Regions from separate parts of the Homo sapiens genome. Here region 2 is linked to region 1. Evidence: fine-mapped expression QTL. A gene starts in region 1. The other region holds a variant in brackets. All regions are shown on one strand. Distances are between the middles of the regions. Region 1 holds the start of TTLL11 (tubulin tyrosine ligase like 11). Region 2 overlaps TTLL11 (tubulin tyrosine ligase like 11).

Evidence for each region. PIP is the estimated chance that this variant, and not a neighbour inherited with it, causes the effect.
Region 2: its variant is fine-mapped to the expression of TTLL11 in skeletal muscle (GTEx, PIP above 0.99).

What each region holds. Positions count from the first base shown.
Region 1 is chr9:122,087,096-122,097,557 of GRCh38, reverse strand. TTLL11 (tubulin tyrosine ligase like 11) reads left to right here and starts at 4,250. Exons shown (of 9, transcript NM_001139442.2): 1 at 4,250-4,871. The coding sequence starts at 4,410. LOC124902262 (a long non-coding RNA gene) reads right to left here. Exons shown (of 3, transcript XR_007061755.1): 2 at 9,045-9,201; 3 at 6,279-6,521. It overlaps LOC124902263 (a long non-coding RNA gene), which reads right to left and starts at 3,426. Exons shown (of 2, transcript XR_007061757.1): 1 at 3,386-3,426; 2 at 2,158-2,384. RefSeq lists enhancers at 4,070-4,259, 4,009-4,722 and a silencer at 4,610-4,659.
Region 2 is chr9:122,034,013-122,044,474 of GRCh38, reverse strand. TTLL11 (tubulin tyrosine ligase like 11) reads left to right here. Exons shown (of 9, transcript NM_001139442.2): 2 at 5,107-5,203. Among named protein-coding and RNA genes, the nearest start is that of TTLL11, 54 kb to the left of the region's middle. RefSeq lists an enhancer at 4,349-5,548. The variant C/T (reference allele first, on the strand shown) is at 4,280.

The DNA.
Region 1 (10,462 bases):
TAAAGCTTTTCTTGAAGAAGTCTCATGTGGGTTTGGATTTTCCACTAACACATTTTAGAATTTCCTGAGAAGTCAAGGGTGCCATGGTATTCAAAGACCTGACAGTCGGGCTCAAGTGGGCCTTGTTTCCTTTCTTTTCTCCCTTGCTCAGAGGCTTGTATTTCAACTGGTCCAGTCTGCTCCCTGCCCTCTTGAAGAAGCAGATGATTATCCCCTTCTTAAATCTTGCTTCACCTTTTCTTCATCTTCCCTCTCAGTACAGGGCCTCCATGAGCCCTGGGAGTCTTTAAGCCAATGGGCAAAAGCACCCCCATCCCATGGCCAAAGCCATGATGGGTGAGGCTTTGCACACATTGGATTTCAACGCCCGCAAGGCCTCTTGCATGACTGCAGCAGCCCTATCCATAGCTCTTCAGTGACCACCCCACCTAGCTTTCTATCAACCTGATTCCTACTCCACCTCGAAGACTCAGCTTATAGTCTCTCTCTTATAGGAAGCCTGGTCTAGCTTTCTAATTCACAGTAAATTCTCTATTTCTTGAGCTACTGGATGAATTTTATTTTTTACTCTTTGCCTCATTGGCACTTAATCATATACTCCCTCATGACACCTCCTATTTTCCTCTCTTGCATAATTATTTCATCTGAATAAGTCTGACTTAGATGAAGAGATCAGAGGTATCTGTGCAGATGTATCATTTACACTGAATAATGAAGGAGCAGTAGCCAGAGATCTAAAGAAAGGCAGAGGGCATGTGCAAAGGCCCTGAGGCAGAAGAGGTCTCGGGATGTGAAGCCAAAATGAATATTTCTATATGGGATTGTCCTTACAGATTTGACATATGAGGCTGAAAATGACTCATTCATTAATACATCCATACTACTTTGTTCATACTACCATGAACAAAGCAAGGGCCACTGTGTTCCAAGACCCAAGAGATGGGGATACAGAGATGAATCAGACAAGATTTGTTCTTGCCCAGACTAATGGTGGAGGCTGAGATGATTTCTAGATAGTGTGACAGACAGACCAGGGTTGAGAGTTGTGGATGAGAATTATGGGTGTGAATAGAAGAGCACAGAGAGTAACTATTTCTGCCTGAGGCACTGGGAAAAGTTTGTCTAAGAACAGACATGAAGGAAGGGAAGTCCAGACAGAAGGAACAATGTTTACAAAGGCATGGAGGCAGGGAGAGGGGTTGATTTCAGAAATTGTAATCAGGAAGGGCCTCTTAGGACAATCAATGTTCTTGGACTTTATCTGTAGATGGTGACAAACCAGGGGAGGTTTCTAAGCAGGAGAGTGGCAGGTCTGGTGTGGAGAATGGGTGGGTGTGTGGCAGAGCTGGAGGTGAGCTATCAGCAGAAGCCTGAATTGGGGTGGTGATGATAGAGATAGATAAGAGAGGAAAGAGGAGATCTCTCTCTCTCTCTCTCTTTTTCTCTCTCGAATGAGTCTCGCTCTGTTGCCCTAGGCGTGCAGTGGCGCGATCTCAGTTCACTGCAGCCTCTGCCTCCTGGGTTCATGAGTTTTGTGCCTCAGCCTCCCGAGTAGCTGGGATTACAGGCATATGCCATCATGCCCAGTTTTTATATATATATATATATATATATATATATATATATATATATATATATATGTTTTTTTTTTTTTTTTTTTTTTTTTTTTGAGACCGAGTCTCACTCTGTCGCCCAGGCTGGAGTGCAGTGGCGCGATCTCGGCAAATTTCAAGCATGGATGACTGAATGAAGGTAGTGCCACTTGCTGAGATCAAGGACACCAGGAGGAGGGACAGGATTTGGGGGGTAGGTTTGTGGAGAGAAATGGGGGGACAGTGAGGCCTTCTTACTGATACCACGGACAGCTCCAAGAATTTCCAGAGGACTTGCATCAGACTCTATGAGTGGTTCTTGCCTCCGCTGCCTTAGAATCAGCGGAGGAGCTAATTTAACATGCAGATTCCCAGGTCCACCCAGATGTGCTGCATCACAGTCTCTGGGGGTGGGGTCCAGGAGCCTGCATTTTAAATAAACACCCCGGGTTGTTCCCATGCAAGTGGCCAGACGACCATGCTTACAGAAACTCTGAAACAAAGTCATGAAGGGAACAGATGCGAGCGCCCTCTGCTGCTAAAAAGGAGGTTTGGATCTCTTAAGTTTATGACTTGGACATTTCAAGGCAGTTTATTCAGCAAGTGAAACCCCTGGACTAAAGCAAAGAAACAAGACACCTGGAGAGATGAGAGAGGAAGAGGGGCCACGTTCCTTGACAACTTCTGTGTTTCTTTCACCCTGTAGTGTCGAGCGAGGCAAAGTTCCCCTGTGTGCAGTCGTGGCCGCTGTGGTCAGTCTGGGGTGCTGTTACACCTTCTCAACCCCACTTCCTAAAAAAACAAATGCGGCTCCCTCAGGTGGGAGGGGAGAGCTTTCTCCTTGGTTTGGCTTTAAAATGATGGCAACTCCCAAAAATGGAAAGCAGGGGCTCAAACAGGTATTTGTATACCAATGTTAACCGACATTCTTCACAATAGCCAAAAGGTGGAAACAACCTAAGTCCATTGACAGATGAATGGATAAAAACGAGGTGGTGTATGCACACGACGAAATATTTTTCAGTCTTAAAAATGAGTGAAATTTGGACTCATGCTACAACATGGAGAAACCTTGAGGACATTATGCTACGTGAAATAAGCCAGACAAATACTGTATGATTCCACTGACATGAGGAACCAGGAATAGTCAAATTCATAGTCAGAAAGTAGAAATGGTGGTTCCCAGGGACTAGGAGAGAAGGGAATCCCGACTTATTGTTTCATAGACACAAAGTTTCAGTTTGGTAAGATAAAAGAGTTCCGGAGACCCATAGTGGTGCTGGTTGCACAACAATGTGAGTATACAGAATGCCACTGAATTGTACACTAAAAATGGTTAAAATGGCAAATTTTGTTATATTTTACCACAACAAAAAAAGTGATATAAGTAAAAGCAGTCAGGCTGGACGTGGTGGCTCACGCTTGTAATCTCAGCACTTTGGGAGGCTGAGGCGGGTGGATCATCTGAGGTCGGGAGTTAGAGACCAGCCTGGCCAAGATGGTGAAACCCCGTCTATACTAAAAATACAAAAAATTAGCCGGGCATGGTGGCCGGCTCCTGCAATCCCAGCTACTCACAAGGCTGAGGCAGGAGAATTGCTTGAAGCCGGGAGGCGGAGGCTGCAATGAGCCGAGATCACACCATTGCATCCCAGCCTGGGCGACAAGAGCGAAACTCTGTAACAACATCAACAACAACAACAAAACAAAAACAAAAACAAAAAAGAAAACAAGAGACGCGGTGGTTCTGCTTGTAATCCTAGTACTTTGGGAGGCCGAGGCTGGCAGATTACCTGAGGTCAGGAGTTTGAGAACAGCCTCGGCAACATGGCGAAACCACGTTTCTACGAGAAACACAAAACTTAGCCGGGAGTGGTGGTACATTCGTGTAGTCTCAGCTACTCGGGAGGTTGGGGTGGGAGGATCCCTTGAGCTCTGGAAGTTGAGGCTGCTGCAGTGAGCCGGGATCGCGCCACTGCACTCCAGCCTGGGCGACAGAGAGAGACCCTGTCTAAAAAAAAAAAAAAAAAAGAAAAAAAGAAAAGAAAAAGAAAAAATCGTTAATATCCTCAACTCGAGTGGGAATCTATAGGGGGCTTACCCATGCCCATGACTTCCCCATCCCATCGGGAGCTCCCTGAGAACAGGGAAAAGTGCCTCCCCTCTTATCTGGGGGCGCTCAAAGGACCAGCAGAGGGTTTCTTCAGCGGAACACTCTCTGCTCCCCTAGGGCCTGGGCTGCTCACATCCATCGCACTGAGGAGGGTCCCATCCATTGCACTGAGGAGGGTCCCATCCATTGCACTGAGGAGGGTCCCACTGGGGGGCTCCTCCTCCGTCCTATCGAGAGTTATCCCAGCGAGTGTTGGCGGGGACTGAGCCTCCTGCTTGAGGTAGTTGTTTTTACTCCCAGTCCCCAGGCTCACGAGCCCCACGCGCGCTCAATCTGCCCTCCCGCTTCTCCTCGCCACTCCGAGTTCTGCGCCCTCGAGATCCAGCGCATCCGCGGGGTGGGCGGGTCCTGGCGGCTCTTTGCCCTCTTCCAACATGGCCGCCGCTGCCTCTGTGACAGGCAGGGTCACGTGGGCAGCCTCGCCTATGAGGTCGCTGGGGCTCGGCCGGCGATTGTCCCTTCCCGGACCCCGTCTCGATGCGGTGACTGCCGCTGTCAACCCGAGCCTGAGCGATCATGGCAACGGGCTCGGGCGGGGAACGCGTGGCAGCGGCTGCAGCGGCGGCAGTTTGGTGGCGGACTGGGGCGGCGGAGCGGCGGCGGCGGCGGCGGTGGCACTGGCACTGGCCCCGGCCCTGAGCACCATGCGGCGGGGCAGCTCCGAGAGCGAGCTGGCGGCCCGGTGGGAGGCGGAGGCGGTGGCTGCGGCCAAAGCGGCGGCCAAAGCTGAGGCCGAGGCCACAGCGGAGACGGTGGCGGAACAGGTCCGCGTGGACGCGGGCGCGGCCGGGGAACCGGAGTGCAAGGCAGGGGAGGAGCAGCCCAAGGTCCTGGCCCCGGCCCCGGCGCAGCCCAGTGCGGCTGAGGAGGGGAACACCCAGGTCCTTCAGCGGCCGCCGCCCACGCTGCCCCCGTCCAAGCCGAAGCCGGTGCAGGGCCTCTGCCCGCACGGGAAGCCCCGGGACAAGGGCCGAAGCTGCAAGCGGAGCTCGGGCCACGGTTCCGGCGAGAACGGCTCCCAGCGGCCGGTCACCGTGGACAGCTCCAAGGCCAGGACCTCCCTGGATGCCCTGAAGATCAGCATCCGCCAGCTCAAGTGGAAGGAGGTGAGGCCCGGCCCGACCCGGCCGCGTGGGCACAGTGGGGTGGACAGGACGACCTCAGAGGTCTCGGCACGGCCCAGGTCAGGTCGGCGGGCGAGGGCTGAGCTCCTGCGGTGCACCACGCTCGGGCCTGCTTGTCAGCCGCAAAGTGCTCATCCTTCAAGGCCTACCCCCCAAAATCACTTCCTCCAAGAGGGCCCCCCAGACCCCTCCAGGTCAAGTTAGCCACTCACTCCTCTGCCTCCCTGCAGCTCTTTTTATGTCTCAGCCATCAGCATTTGCCTCTGCTTGTAGATATGTGTACGTCTGTCTCCTCCACCAGCTTGTAAGCCCCTGGGGCCCCGGACCCGCTCTCTCACTTCTTCATTGAAGTTATATTTGTTTAGCACTTGCTGTGTGACTCTTGGGCAGAGGAACACTTTTTATTTTGGAGGCAGACAGGCCTAGGGTCTCACTACACTTTGCTACTTAGCTGTGTGACCTTGAGTAAGTTGCTTCACCTCTTCAGCCTATTACCTTCTCTGTAAAGTGAGGCCAATTATACTTATCTCATCATCTTGTTAGCATTAGAAGACTCACTACTTAGTGTTTTATAGCACAAGTCTGCAATAAATGGTAACTTACGTTACCACCTTCTCCTTTCTCTCTTCTTCCACCATCATCACCATCACCACCACCAGCACCACCACTGTCCTCATGATCAGTGGTATAAAATCAGGCACTGTATTTTATATTCCAGGCTTGGCTTACGGCATGTGTCAGTAAGCAGTGAATGAAAGGGTGAATGAATACATGAGTTATCATCCCTGAGCCCATTTTAGACTGGCAGGGGATGGAATGTAGCACCAGTGACTCTAGAGGTGTCTGTTGCAATTGGCTACGTGGATAAAGCCATTTGACTTTATTTGCAGCATATAAGGTATTTAATGTGCTTTCAGGAGTGTCAGGAGTTTGATTAAGGATAGCTGAGTGTGGACACAGCCAGTGGTAACAGGGATCTGCTGCGGGTAACAGAGGACTCAGGTTCTTAGCCCTGTGCCTTGGCTATGGTAGATGCTCGGTAATGGTTTCATTAAGTTGGAACATACAGAGAGATGGCCACAGAAAGGACTGATGTGGTCAGAGGGTTGATGTCCCAATAGGAAAAAGTGCATTTGGTTTGGAGGGAAGTCAAGGATCAGGCAGAACCGACTTCCAGGTGGATAGGGTGTAGCCGTTGGGGAAGTTTGACTCCAAGTGTCTGGGCCCCCAGCCTTGGGGCTTGGGATTCAGAGGGGAACTTTCATGCTGGGGAAACTTGGGGAAAACAAAGGCAGGCTCTCAGTTCTAAAGTATCTGGGTTTCTAGGCAGGGCCCCAGGTCCAGGCCAGAGATATGAGGGCTAGAAAAGGTACAACTGGACAACTTGTCAGTGCCGTGGTCTTAATGAAGGGAGAATCCAGCAAATAAAACCAGGCTATGGAGTCAGGCTAGGCAGATTGGCCCAAGTGGGGCCTCCACTTAGCTTATCCCTGTGGGAGAGAGAGACATAAAGCAGGCCAGATCTCGTTTGCTCGGAGAGATGGGGCCAGATGGACTAATACATCCCAGCCCAGGTTCGTTCACTCATTCCGTAAATGTCCACTTTGGAGGTGCCAAGTTCTTTGCTGGGCCCTGGGAACCAAACATACTTAAGATGTGACCCTTGCCCCCAAGGACTTCATGGTTCAATAGGGAATAAAACACAAGTAAAGGAATAATTGCGGTCATTACAGGTCATTACATTGCTGCTGCATCCTGAAATTCTCCCTTTTCATTTATTTGCATGGCTTACTCTTGTCACTTCTTTAGATGATACCTTCCCCATCAATCTCCAGCCCTTGGTATTTATTTTTTTTCCATAGTACTAAACTTCGCCAGGCATTATATTATGTATTGCTTGTTTATTGTCGTTTCCCTCACTAGAATGTAAGCTCCATGAGGGCAGGGGCTTTGTTTTGTTTATTGCTGTACCCGCAGGTACTTGGCACACAGAAGTTGCTCAATAAATATTCGTTGAATGAATGAATACATTATGTGATGAGTGTTTCTGTGTGAAAGGAGAAATGCTGCGGGAGGTAGAGGAGGGGCACCCAGGAAGGACTTCCTGGAGGAAATAAACCCGAGCTGAGTTGTGAGTGCTGAAAATGAACTGGAGTTATTTAGGGTCATGGACTTTGGATCCCTGGTTGCAGGAGTGGTGTGGGCAAAGCAGAGGCCCTTTCAGGACTTTGAGTATGGCCGGATCATAGCGTGGGAGGTGGAGTGGTAAGAGATGGGGCTTCAGAAATGAGCAGGGATCAGATCATGTGCCATGCGATGGGATTTGGACCTGTTTTGGGGAGGAAGGCTATGTGAGCCATTAACAGAATTTTGATGTTCTTCCATTTATCAGGGCAAGTCAGTTAAACCCTTGAGGCCTCAGTTTGCTTATCTGTAAAGTAGGGGTGGACAGAGCTAATTCAGCAGTTTCCAGTCTTTCTACTTCGGTAGCCGCATAATGGTAATGTTGATCTACTCTCTACTTCGGTAGCCGCATAATGGTAATGTTGATCTACATGAGACTGTTGCACTGGTCACCCCCAGTGGGTAGGCTTTTTCCAAGGCACTACCTGTAACTGCTTCTTCCACCTCCAACCCTGCCCTTTTTTTCCCACTCAGAGAACACATTGGCATATAGGTGGAGATGTTTATTCTAGTATATTTTAAAACATAATTCACTGAATGTGGTGGCTCATGCCTGTAATTCCACCTACTTGGGAGGCTGAGGTGGGAGGATCACTTGAGTCCAGGAGTTCAAGGATGCAGTGAGCTATGATTGTGCCACTGCACACCAGCCTGGGTGACAGAGCAAGACCCTGTCTCTAAAAAAAATATTGAAAATTAAAAAAACAATTCACTTGCAACAATAAGACTCTACTATTAGGCTTGTGATTATTACTGTCACCCTTCCTCATTACTGCATGAAGTCCTGAGGGCAGGGGTGGTATCTGACTTATGTCCCTAATGCACAGCATATTCTAGGTGCTCAATAAATATTCATCAAATGAATTATGGAATATTTGCAAGAGAGCTTACATCACATCTTGACACCCTAGTGTGGAGGTTGAAAAGTGCCAGAGTAGCTAAACTTTAAAGTTCCTTCCTGCTTTAAACTATGATTATAGTATTCTTAGTACCTCCTACAAAGTTGACTGCATGAAAACTAACATATATATATATCCCTGGTACTAACAAAGTGCAAACACATGACCTTTCTTATGCCTGCCTTTCCCCATCTGTTATGAGGTGATATTGGATGAGATCATCTTGAACTCCCAGCGCTGTTTTAGGAGCAAGAACTTCTACTGGGGGCTGTGGTGCAAGGGTGTGAGCAACAGTATCTCTTGCAGCCCATGCTGTGTTGCTGTGGGTTTGGGGAGTACTCAGGTGGCTGGCTTTGGTGGGAGTGGATGAGTAGCCCAGGTAAGAAATAAGGTCATGAACACCAACCAGAGTGAGAGCTGTGTCTCCTTTTATGGGTGCATAGTGAGGAGCTATATATCACCGTCCACTTTAACAGGGTAGGACTGAGCCAGCATGTGAATTCAGAAGTTTGCTCAGCTGCAGGGCACACAATCTCGCTTCCTTTTTCACTTTTTTTTTTTTTTTTTTTGAGACAGGGTGTCGTTCTGTCATCCAGGCTGGAGTGCAGTGGTGCTATCTTGGCTCACTGCACTCTCACTACAACCTCTGCCTCAGAGGTTCAAGCAGTTCTCCTGCCTCAGCCTCCTGAGTAGCTGAGATTACAGGCATGTGTCACCATCCCTGGCTAATTTTTGTATTTTTAATAGAGATGGGGTTTCACCATGTTGGCCAGACTGGTCTTGAACTCCTGACCTCAAGTGATCTGCCTGCCTCGGCCTCTCAAAATGCTGGGATTACAGGCGTGAGCCACCACCCCTGGCTCCTTTTTCACTTTTCCTTATTCCACATATATTTAACAACAACAACAACATGATAATAAATCTTTATATAGCTCTTACTCTGTTCCAGGTGCTGTTTTAAGTGCTCTACATATATACAATTGTTTGATTCTCCCAACAGCTCAGTAAAGTAAATGCCTTATTGTGTCCGTTCTACATATGAGAACATGGAAATACACAGAGGTTAACTTACCTGAGGCCACATAGCTAGTAAGGGACAGAGCTAGCATTTGAAATATGCATTCCATTTGAAACCAGGCTTCAATTCTGTGCTCTCTATTGGTAAACACTGGGCTGGAGGTCGCAGATGTAGATGTGAACAGGATACACTCCTTGCCCTCCAGGAGCTCCTGGTGTAGGAGGAGGAATACATGCAAACAAACAGTTACAGTTTGGTCTGGGAGGTGAGTGATTCAAGGATGTTCCATACAGAGTAGGAACAACAAGGCAGGCAGTATGGACCAGGTTTTACATGCAGGATGGGATGATGGCAGCTGAGGGAGCATATGGGGGAGTGGAGAGCGATGAAGAAGCCAGATCACAGAGCATGGTGAAGGCCATGCCAAGAAGCTTGCGCTTCTGACTGAATTTAATCACAGATTGCTTGCCATATATAGACCCGGCCTCCCTTGCCCACTCTCCTTCAGTCCCAAGTGAACCATGCCAGCCCTCAGATGATTCAGTTTGCAGTCATACCCGTTCTGGCCAGGTCTAATTTAACTGCGTCCACAATGTTAAATTTGTTTCTGAAAGGGAAGGATCACAGATGTTAGCTCTGTAAACTTGTAGACAAGACTGGAGTTACTCTCAAATAGCAAAATCATGTTTACAGAGTCACCACTGATGTTGCAACATGAAAGAAAGGCATGGTTTCTGGTTCACCGCAGATGCTCAATGTTTATGGATTTGTATGGTCTTCTTCCCATCCTGTGAAGACTCCCCATCTCCCATGGATGCTTCTGTCATTTTGCTACCCTCATGAAAAAACACCTTAGAGGAAAGACACCATAGAGAGTAGACGCCACTTTTGTTGTGAGCTGCCCTCTTTGGAGATGTAGGTTGTGTTTATGTGCACAGTGGTGCCATGGCCACCAGCTAATGTGAATGAGGGCCCTGAGAGATTTCATAGCGGGACCTTTGTTGATGATAGTTTGAATAAGCCCCTGTCCTGAGATCTATTATAGTATAAAGTCTTTGTTTCAGAGACTCCAAATCATGCATTGTTCCCTGAAATTTATCCAGCCTTTCTTTAGAACAAGTATACACTTACTATATTGTCCTACTTACAACTTGTATAATATTAGTTACTGTTTATTAAATAGGGGTTATGTGCAAGGCATTGTACTGTTTTATGCTCGTGAAAAATTGTATTGAGAGGCTGAGGCACGAGAATTGCTTGAACCCGGGAGGCGGAGGTTGCAGTGAGCTGAAATCGCACCACTGCACTTCAGCTGGGATAACAGAGTGAGACTCTGTCTCAAAAAAAAAAAAATTGTATTGAGTATTTACTATGCATTATTTATTTAATCCTTGCAAAAACCCTCTAAAATAGACTGCACTGTCATCTTCAACTTACAGATGAGGGAACTGAGGCTTAGAGAGGGGCCGGTA
Region 2 (10,462 bases), 53 kb after region 1:
TGGTGGGACTGTAAACTAGTTCAACCATTGTGGAAGTCGGTGTGGCAATTCCTCAGGGATCTAGAACTAGAAATACCATTTGACCCAGCCATCCCATTACTGGGTATATACCCAAAGGATTATAAATCATGCTGCTATAAAGACACATGCACACGTATGTTTATTGCGGCACTATTCACAATAGCAAAGACTTGGAACCAACCCAAATGTCCAACAATGATAGACTGGATTAAGAAAATGTGGCACATATACACCATGGAATACTATGCAGCCATAAAAAAGGATGAGTTCATGTCCTTTATAGGGACATGGATGAAGCTGGAAACCATCATTCTCAGCAAACTATCGCAAGGACAAAAAACCAAACACTGCACGTTCTCACTCGTAGGTGGGAATTGAACAATGAGAACACATGGACACAGGAAGGGGAACATCACACACCGGGGACTGTTGTGGGATGAGGGGAGGGGGAAGGGATAGCATTAGGAGATATACCTAATACTAAATGACGAGTTAATGGGTGCAGCACACCAACATGGCACATGTATACATATGTAACAAACCTGCACGTTGTGCACATGTACCCTAAAACTTAAAGTATAATAATAAAATAAAAAAAGAAAAGAAAAAAATATATATATATTCTGACTATTGATCTATTATCAAATATATGATTTTGCACATATTTTCTGCCATTCTGTGGGTTACCTTTTCACTCTGTTCATAGTGTCTTTTGATGAAAAAAAGTTTTTAATTTTTATCTTTGATTTACCTATTTTGTTTTTTGTTGGCTGTGCTTACGTTGTCATATCCAAGAAATCATTGCCAAATGCAGTGTTATGAAGCTTTTCTCCTATGTTTTCTATATTTCTAGTGTTATGAAGCTTTTCTCCTATATTTTCTGTATTTCTAGTGTTATGAAGCTTTTCTCATATGATTAGGCCTTTGATTTGGCTCATATGATTAGGCCTTTGATCTATTTTGGGTTAATTTTTGTATATGGTATAAGGTAAAGGTCCAACTTCATTCTTTTTGCACGTGGATATTCAGTTTTCCCAGCACCACTTGTTGAAAAGACTGCCCTTTCCCTATTGAATAGTCTTGTCATCCTTGTTGAGAATCATTTGATCACACCTGAGAGGCTTTATTTCTGAGCTATCCTATCCCACTGTCCTCTATATCTGTCTTTATGCCAGTACCACACTGATTTTTTTCATTTGTTTTTATTTTCATTTTTAAAGCATTTTTGGTTCACAGCAAAATTGAGCATATGGTGCAGAGATTTTCCCCCACCTGCATTGATAGCCTCCCCCACCATCAAAATCCTGAATCAGAGTGGTGTGTTTTTTACAACTGATGAAACTACACTGACATGTCATCATCACCCAAAGTCCATAGTTTACATTACTCTTCACTCTTGGTGCTATTCTATGGGTTTTGAAAAATGTATAATGACATGTATCTACCATTATAGTATCACACAGAGTATTTTCACTGCTCTAAAATCCTCTGTACTTCACCTATTCATCTCTTCCTCCCCTCGGGCCCCTGGCAAATACTGATCTTTTTACTGTCTCTGTAGTTTTGCCTTTTCCAGAATGTAGTTTAGTTGGAATCATACAGTATGTAGCTTTTTCAGATTGACTTATTCCATTTAGTAATATGCATTTAAGATTCCTCCATGTCTTTTGTGGCTTGACAGCTCATTTCTTTTTAGCACTGAATAATATTTCATTGTTTGGATATACTGTAGTTTATTTATCTACTCACCTACAGAAGGACTCACCTACTGAAGGACATCTCAGCTGCTTCCAAGTTTTGGCAGTTATGAATACAGCTGCTATAAACATTCATGTGCAGATTTTTGTGTGGATATAAGTTTTTCAACCCATTTGGATAAATACCGAGGAGAACTAATTGCTGGATTATATAATAAGAGTATGTTTAGTTTTGTAAGAAACTGCCAAACTGCCTTGTAAAGTGGCTTTACCATTTTGCATTTCCACCAGAAAGGAATGAGGGTTCCTGTTGCTCGACGTCCTTGCCAGCATTTGGTATGTCAGTGTTTTGGACTTTGGCCATTGTAATAGGTGCTGGTGGTATCTCATTGTGATTGTATACACTATTTGATTACTGTAGCTTTGTTTTTGGCATCAGGAAATGTGAGACCTCCAGCCTGGGCGCAGTGACTCACGCCTTTAATCCCAGCACTTGGGGAGGCCGAGGCAGGTGGATGGCCTGAGACCAGACTGGCCAACATGGCAAAACCCAGCCTCTACTAAAAATACAAGAATTAGCTGGGTGCGCTGGCATGTGCCAGTAATCCCAGCCACTCGGGGGGCTGAGGCAGAAGAGAAAGAATCACTTGATCCAGGAGGCAGAGGTTGCAGTGAGCTGAGATTGTACCACTGCACTCCAGCCTGGGTGATGGAAGAAGACTCTGTTTCAAAAAAAAAAAAAAAGGAAGTATGAGAACTCCACTTGGTTCTTTTTTTTTTTTTCAAGATTGTTTTTGCTATTTGGGGTCCCTTGTAATTCCATATGAATTTTAGGATGGATTTTTTTATTTTGAAAAAAAGTTATTGGGATTTTGATAGAGACTGCATTGCATCTGTAGACCATTTTAGGTAGTATTGACATCCTAACAATATTAACTCTTCCGGTCTATGAGCATAGGATATCTTTCTGTTTATTTGTATTAATATCTTCTTTAATTTCTTTTACAAATATTTTATAGTTTTCAGTGTACAAGTCTTTCACCTTTTTGGTTAATTCCTAAGTATTTTATTCTTTTTGATGCTATTATAAATGGAATTCTTTTAAAAAAAGGTCCTTTTTGGATTGCTCCTCATCATGTATGAAACACAGTTGATTTTTATGTGTTGATTTTGTATCCTGCAACTTTGCTGAATTTGTTTATTACTTTGAATATTTTTCTGTGGAATCATTAGAGTTTTCTACATATGGGATCATGTCATCAACAAACAGATAATTTTGCTTCTTATTTTCTAATGTGGACACCTTCTATATCTTTCTCTTGCCTATTCTGGCTAGAATTTATAATACTATGTTGATGTAAAATAAAAGTGGGCATCTTTGTCTTATTCCTGATCATGGTGGAAAAGCTTTAAAGCTTTTAGTATTTTACCATTGAGTATGATGTTAGCTGTGTAAGCGGACAGTTTTTAAAGGAGCTTAAAAAGAGGTAGGATTATGAAATCCTGGGACTTAATTAAAATTATATCCCCCATATTCCTAGCACCTAGTCTGGCATATAATAATTACTGAGTGAATGGACATGTTTTTAAAAATGGTAGTTTCTCAAAACTGAATGAGCTAAAGGTGCCTCTAAAAGGGGGGGCAATTTGGTATTCATGAGGGTGGTAAGCATTGAAGAGTGATGAAAAAGGAGATAAGAGTCATTGGGTTGCCCACTGACAAGGTGTTGGTTCCTCATTGTGGGCAACAAAGCAAAGCCACTTTACCCTTTGCTCGGATAGCCTGCTTAATTCTGGTTATTTTCTCCTTCTCTATATTAGCACTTAACAGCTAGAAGAAAATAACATATGTTGTATCTCATTGTATTTATGAGTACTGAATTAATAACTTACAGCCCATTGCATAAAAAGAAAATGAGCAAAATGCTGTAAATTATAGATGGAAGTTGTTAATGTGAGTAGAGTGTACAACATATGCCTCATTGTGCACAGCTTTGAAATAATGTGACTGATTTAAATGACTTGAGGCTGGCTTCATTTTAATGTGGAATGTATGGAAAGCATTGAGTCACCACCATTTCATTAGTAAGGCTATGTTCTTCCATTGGACCTTGGCCCCTCAACTTGAAGTAGATAAAAATTCTGATTACCTATAGTCCTAGAATGGGAAAATCAAAAGATTTTTATTTAATATGTTGGCATATCTATTTGTGTGCACTTTTAACAAGCAAATTCTGAATATGAACTAACATGGCCTCTCTTTTCTCCTTTAACAAGGTCATCTGAGTTACAGATTTAAAAAATATGTTCATTAAATGCAGAGCTTGTTGATAACTTTGAGAAGCAACAGGATGTAGTGGAAAGAACAGGCCCTTTTGTCTCGGTGAGAAATTTTCTGGCTTCAAATAATTGAAACTCTATAGCTTGTGCCAAACAAGATTTTAGAAGACCAAAAAGGTATTCTCAGGATACAAGGCTATCTTACAGGCTCACGCGGGTCTGAGGCCACTCAGTCTGAGTTTCTAGGGCTATGTTGTCTCATCTCTGCTTTCCCTCCCACA[C/T]CTGCTCCTTTCTTGTCTCTCAGCAGACTGGCTGTCTCTGCTCCTGTGCACATAGCCAAGCACAGCTGCCCTGCCCTGGCTTTTTATCCCTGCCAGTTCAAGGGCCAGCAGAGGCTGCCTGGCATCTCTGATTTCCAGATTCCTGGAAGAGAGAATCTGGTTATCTCATCTTGAGTCAGATGACCACTCCTGATTTGTTCATTTATTAATTCAGGAAGTCTTTACGAGTTTGGGGAACTGTTTTAGGCCCTGGGATTCATCTTACCCTCATGGAGCATATGTGTGTGTGTATGTGTGTGTGTGTGTGTGAGAGAGAGAGAGAGAGAGAGAGAGATAAGGGAAGAGGGACTCTGAAAGCTTATTCTTTTGGGCTCGGTTGAGGGTTGTAATTTTCAGAGGAAGGGATGTATGGGCTTGGAATTTGGATAGACCTGGACTCTAATCCTGGTTCCTCCCCTTACCAGCTCTGTGTGACCCTTGGGCATGTTAAATTACCTCTGTCAGCCCCAAGTTTTGAATCAGCAAAATGGGAGTAATCCTTTATAGGGTAGTTATAAGGATTAAAGTGAAATGGTGCCTGCAAAGCCAGGAGTGTAGTATCTGCCACATGTAATCAGAGCTCTACCACTTGGAACAAGTTATTAAACCTGTTTGAATCTGTTTCCTCATCTGTAAAATGGCAAAGAATATCACTTACCTCATATGCGTATTATAAGGATTAAACCATGGTAAGTACACCAGGGTGCCAGGAATTTGTACATAATGGATACTCAGTGTGGTCACTGCTCTTCTTATTCTTATTGCGAGTCACATTTTTTCTCTTCTAGTTCCCATTTGGCCGGCGCTTGCCTTGTGACATCTACTGGCATGGAGTTTCATTTCACGACAATGACATATTCTCCGGTCAAGTGAACAAGTTTCCAGGTATCTGCTGTTATTGTTGACATTTAAACATGTTTCTAGGGCCAAGTCTCAGATACACTCTTCTACTAAAACATGACAGTTATTTTTGAGATCAGATTTGAGGACTCTTAATTGGGAATTGCTGTGTTCACTAGCCATTAAGGTTTTAAGGATTGGAGACAGGCTTTTAAAGGTTCAAAGGCAGGCTTTCTTGGTCTAATGCCACTGGTGGAAGAACATGGTTTCCACTTTTTGGGTTATGCATATAATATGGGGTTCTAATGAGAGGAATATATTCTGAAAATGAAAAAATAATAGAACATTTCATTCTTGCGGGAAACAAAAGCACCAAAATTCTAGGCATATGTCATAGAAATGGGGTATCAGCTTCCCTTTTCTTTAAGTATTATATTTGGAGGTACCATTTTTAAAACCAAATATACTGGTCTCCATATTAAGTACTACAGGCTGCACACAGCCTCTGCCTTTTACCTAATGACATTATCTCAGCAAGACTTATCCTGCAAGGAGAAATCTTAGTGCTAGAAAAGCATCATAGCCAGCACTAAGATATCCCTCTCACTCCACTACCAACCTCCCAATACAACTTTTTTGTTTTGCATTTTAATCTCTACCACTTTTCTGAGATGGAGTCTCGCTTGGTCACTCATACTGGAGAGCAGCAGCACGATCTTGGCTCACTGCAACCTCTGCCTCCCAGGTTCAAGCAATTCTCCTGCCTCAGCCTTCCGAGTAGCTGGGATTACAGGCCTGTACCACCATACCCGGCTAATTTTGTATTTTTAGTAGAGACAGGGTTTTGCCATGTCACGTTGGCCAGGCTGGTCTCGAACTCCTGACCTCAAGTGACCCACCTGCCTCAGTCTCCCACAGTGCTGGGATTACAAGCGTGAGCCACTGTACCGGGTCTCTTCATTATTTTTGATGGCTGAATGAAGAGGATATTTAAGATGGTAGGACAGCTTAGGGAGAAGGAGCACTGGATTAAGCTGGGTATGATGCAGTCAAAGGGCCTTCCACTTATTTTTTAAAATGTTAATATATTACACAGACCATATTATAATGCCATAATAAATACTTTCTAAAAAGAACATCACCCTGAATCCCATATCTCATTTAACAAAACAGCAATATGAATATTTCTATATTTCCTCCCAAACCTTAAGCAAGTTTACTCATCCTTTTTGCATGGTTGCAGTCCTAGTGTAGTTGCCTAAATATAGGGTGTTTTCTCTTAGTATTTTATCAATTTTACCTATTTTAAAGGGAGAATCAATTTACTGTTTCCTTGACATTCTATCCCACGTCTTTAAGAAAACGCATTGCAGAAAACACAATAGCCATACGTTATACAGGGGGTGGTAGTTATGCCACATCCACTAGGGGTTTTCACCTAAGCATGCAGTCTTACAAGTTCACTACCATAGGCCACACTTAGCTCAGATTCACTTAGAAGGATACAGGGCAGGAAACACGGCTTGCTGGACAGTCAGTGTCAAGCATTTCTCTTCAGTGGAGTATTTGCAAGAGTTCCAGAGACTAGTCTCTGGCTCCTCAAGTGAAAGCTCAGGTGCAAAAGGACAAGATCCACATTGGTGGATATGAGTCTTTCTTGGCTTAGATGCCCCACAGAATCCAGTATCTTTTAGAACTGCTCCATAGTATGCCTTCTAAGGTCCAAGCAAGGGTCATATTAAGTTACAAGAATCATCGCACTCAGAAAAGCCTAGAGCAATGACTTTCTACTAGATATCTATGCAATTTACCAAATCAGGGATCATTTTAACCATATGCTTTGTGGCCTAGTAATTCAGCTAACATTCTACCTTCATTGTTTTCTAGGGGAACTGAGATAGAAAGTTAACCCAAGGTCAAATTTATCCTTAGAGAAGGAGAAAGGGTTTTGTTACAGAACAAGAATGATTCTTGCAGCCAGAGTTCTTACCCAACAGTTTAATGGGATAGCTATTATTTTTTGTGTCTTGCTGCTCAGAAAAGGATGCTTTGTGATGCCACTTAAAGGACTTATTAGGATATTGGGAGAATACAGTTTGGAAGAGAAAACGCTTTGAATGAGGACAGAGTTCCTAAGACATGAATCATCAAATGAGGCCTCATTTACATTTTCCCCATTTGCTCATGCCTCATCTAGTGTCTCAGAGTAGGAAAGAAGTAGCTATAGATCTACATTTGGAATACAAATTAGAAATATAGAATGAAGTACCCACAAAGGATTAGTTTCATAAAGGTGATAGAATGATATTCATTCCAAAGAAGCAAGTTTGCCCCATCCCATATTCCACATGCCGGTGATTGGAACATAGACTTTTCCACATTATTAACAGAAATTAATTAGTTCTAATGACAAAGCAGACTCTTAAACCTCTAGGCAGAGGAACAGTGCTGCCACACCCTCTACCCTGTGAAAGGTAGTAATCCTCAGCAGAGGGGTAATTCCAGAACAGTCTGGCCTCTGATACCAGTTTGTGTCCAAGCTTATCTTCTGTCTCTCATATATCTCATTATTCTAAAATGCACTTTCTATACATTGTATATTACTTAGGGTAAGTTCTAGTGGATATCCCAGGCAAGTGTAAACGCTTTATTTGCTGGGTCAACTGAGAACGGATATATACAGATGGAAGTGATTAATTTTGTTTGTGTCAGCACATTAGATTTTAGTCACTTTTCTATGGGTAATTTCCTGGTTCAAATTACATTATTATATTTTGGCTGATGAATTAAGACTTTCTATGAAAATAATCTGATTTAGATACGTCTAAAGAAAGTAGATTATTAGATATGTCTACTTTCTTTAGACGTATCTAAATCAGACATGTCAGATTAGACATATCAGATTTAGCTTTAAGAAAGTCCAAAACTGTCCATTCTCAGGTTCTGAGCAGGTCTTTTGCTGAGTTTCAGGGTCTGAGATGTATGGCATCACATGGCAGGTGGTACCTGAGAGCCCACCTGAGGAGGGGGCTTTCTGCTGGAGAGGGAGGGAGCTTCAGTGAGGAACCTGTGGGGACAGCCATCTGTCAAGCATTGGTCTGGGCTCTGGGGCTATAAAGACACAGAGAAAGGCATGTAAAGAGAGAAGAAAAATACAGCCTAGGGGCTTTGCTGGAGGAAGCTGGAATGCTGTGGGGGTCCGGAGCAAGGGCGGGCAACCTAACCCAGATTTGCCCAGGGAGCAGCAGGGTGAGAGCTCCTGGAGAACAGGACTGGCATGGAAACTGAGCCTCCAGGATGGATGGGCCTGATCCCCATGCCAAACAAGGGAGCAGAGTTGGTGCAAAGACAGAATGCCTTCAGCATATTACTCGTTCATCGAAGGGCAAGTGGCCTACCATGGTTAGAGGGCGTCAGGTGAGCAGGGCAGGGGAGGGGTGATGAGTAGGAACCCAACTACAGCATTGTTAGAGCCTGAAGGTCATAGGGAGCCACTGAGGAATTTTTAAGCCAGACAGTGACACGGGTCAGCTTGCATGTTAGCAAGATCAGCCAGAGGGACACATTAGAAATGAGATGGCTCAGAGAAGAAACAGAGATGTAGCTAAGAGTCTGCTGCAGCATCCACCCAAGAGATGAATGAATTAGTGGCAATCAGAATAGAGAGAACAGGATGGATCTGAAAGGATTTATTTGTTGTTTGGTGGTTCTAATATGTTTTTGCCAAGAATTATTGTTATAAATAATATTTTGATTGAATAGTGCTCCAAGTATAGCTCAGTTTTAGTTTGTTTTGTTTTACATTAACTGGGTTAAGTAGGGCTGCATGGGCAAACCTGAGGTTGAACTGTTATGCTGTCAGTTAACTTGAATGGGGTGAGACCCACCAGGCCTTGAGACTCCAGCGTAGCAGACAGAAAAGCCCAGGCCTCAGAAGGAGGGGCAGGAGGTAAGCCCTTGGTGTCAGAAACTCCCACCTGAATTAGGAGGTTTTCCCAATCGATAGGGGAACTGCCCTCATAGGGACATCTAGGGATAGACCTTATTGAGAAACCTAGGTGGGCAGTCAACCTCAAAAGGAGCTGTTAGGTAGCAGGACCCCAGACACTGGGTGAAAGTCACAGACAGGAGGATTCCAGCCCTTGCAGGGTGGGCTTGAGGGGAACAGAGGAGAGGTTGGAGAGAGGAGGGGCATTGGAGAGAACAAAGAAAAGGACGCAGCTCTGCATTGCTAAGGCAGCCACTCAGGCTCCAGGAGCAAAAGATAAGGTCACCAACATTTGGATACAAGCAATAGAACACCGGAAAAATGGGTAAAATCCTTCTTATCTGGTTGGAATACATAGTCTAGGTCAGACTTTTAGCAGAAGGGAGCTGGGGGTTAGACCTAGAGCTTCGATCTCAGTTCAGAATTGGTCCTAGAGCCCAGGGAGGGGACACAGGTGACGAGGGGTCAGGCGCTGCAGCTGCTTAGGGAAAGGGGACAGGGCCTGGAGCCAGTAGGGCCTGAAGTCAGCAGAGCTGGCCATGACCTTCCTTCTCACAGATTTACTCTGGGAACGCGTGCCCTGGATCAGCTAGAAACCCTGCTACGCTTGTCAGGGTCATAATGGAGAAGTTGCCACTCCCACACCTGTCTCTGAGCCACCTCCAGAGGTGGAGATGCCAGGAGCTTCCATGTGGGTTCTAGTGAGGGGCCAGAAACTCTTTCCCTGGTGGCACTGGATAGGAGCACAGCTTAGATATGGAGGAGCAAAGGTTTGGTGCTAAGTGGATTGAGAGAAGTCTACACCCGTCCCTCCTGGAGACAGGCATTCAGGCAGGTTTGGAGTGAGCTGCCTCCGGCCTGCAGGCAGGAAGTGCCTGGCTTCCAGGGGTGCTTCTTAAGTTGGCCATTTTCAGTAGAAAAACTGCCTGGAGACATGAAGGTAAACTTGGAAACACCTATTAGCTGGTGTGGGGCCTGATGGTGCACATTACAGAAGGAGCCATTGCCGATATTAAATGAATATTGACTGAATTTGCTGGACATAGATTTTCACAAAACTTTTCTGGAGCACCCAGACTGCCCTCAAGTACCCACAGCTCTCTGTGTTGTGTGAGCCCTTCTGACCTGCTGAGGGATTTCGGAAGAGAACATTCCCCCGGCACAACGACTTTAAAGTGCAGAAAATACCACAACACTATTTGGTCAGGAGGCATCCTCTACGTGGAGTAAGGTGCTGTATTACAGTTAGTTATGAAGGCTTTCAGTTCAATACGGTAACATTTTAATGTTAGTAAACCTCAAGCAAAAGGATTCCA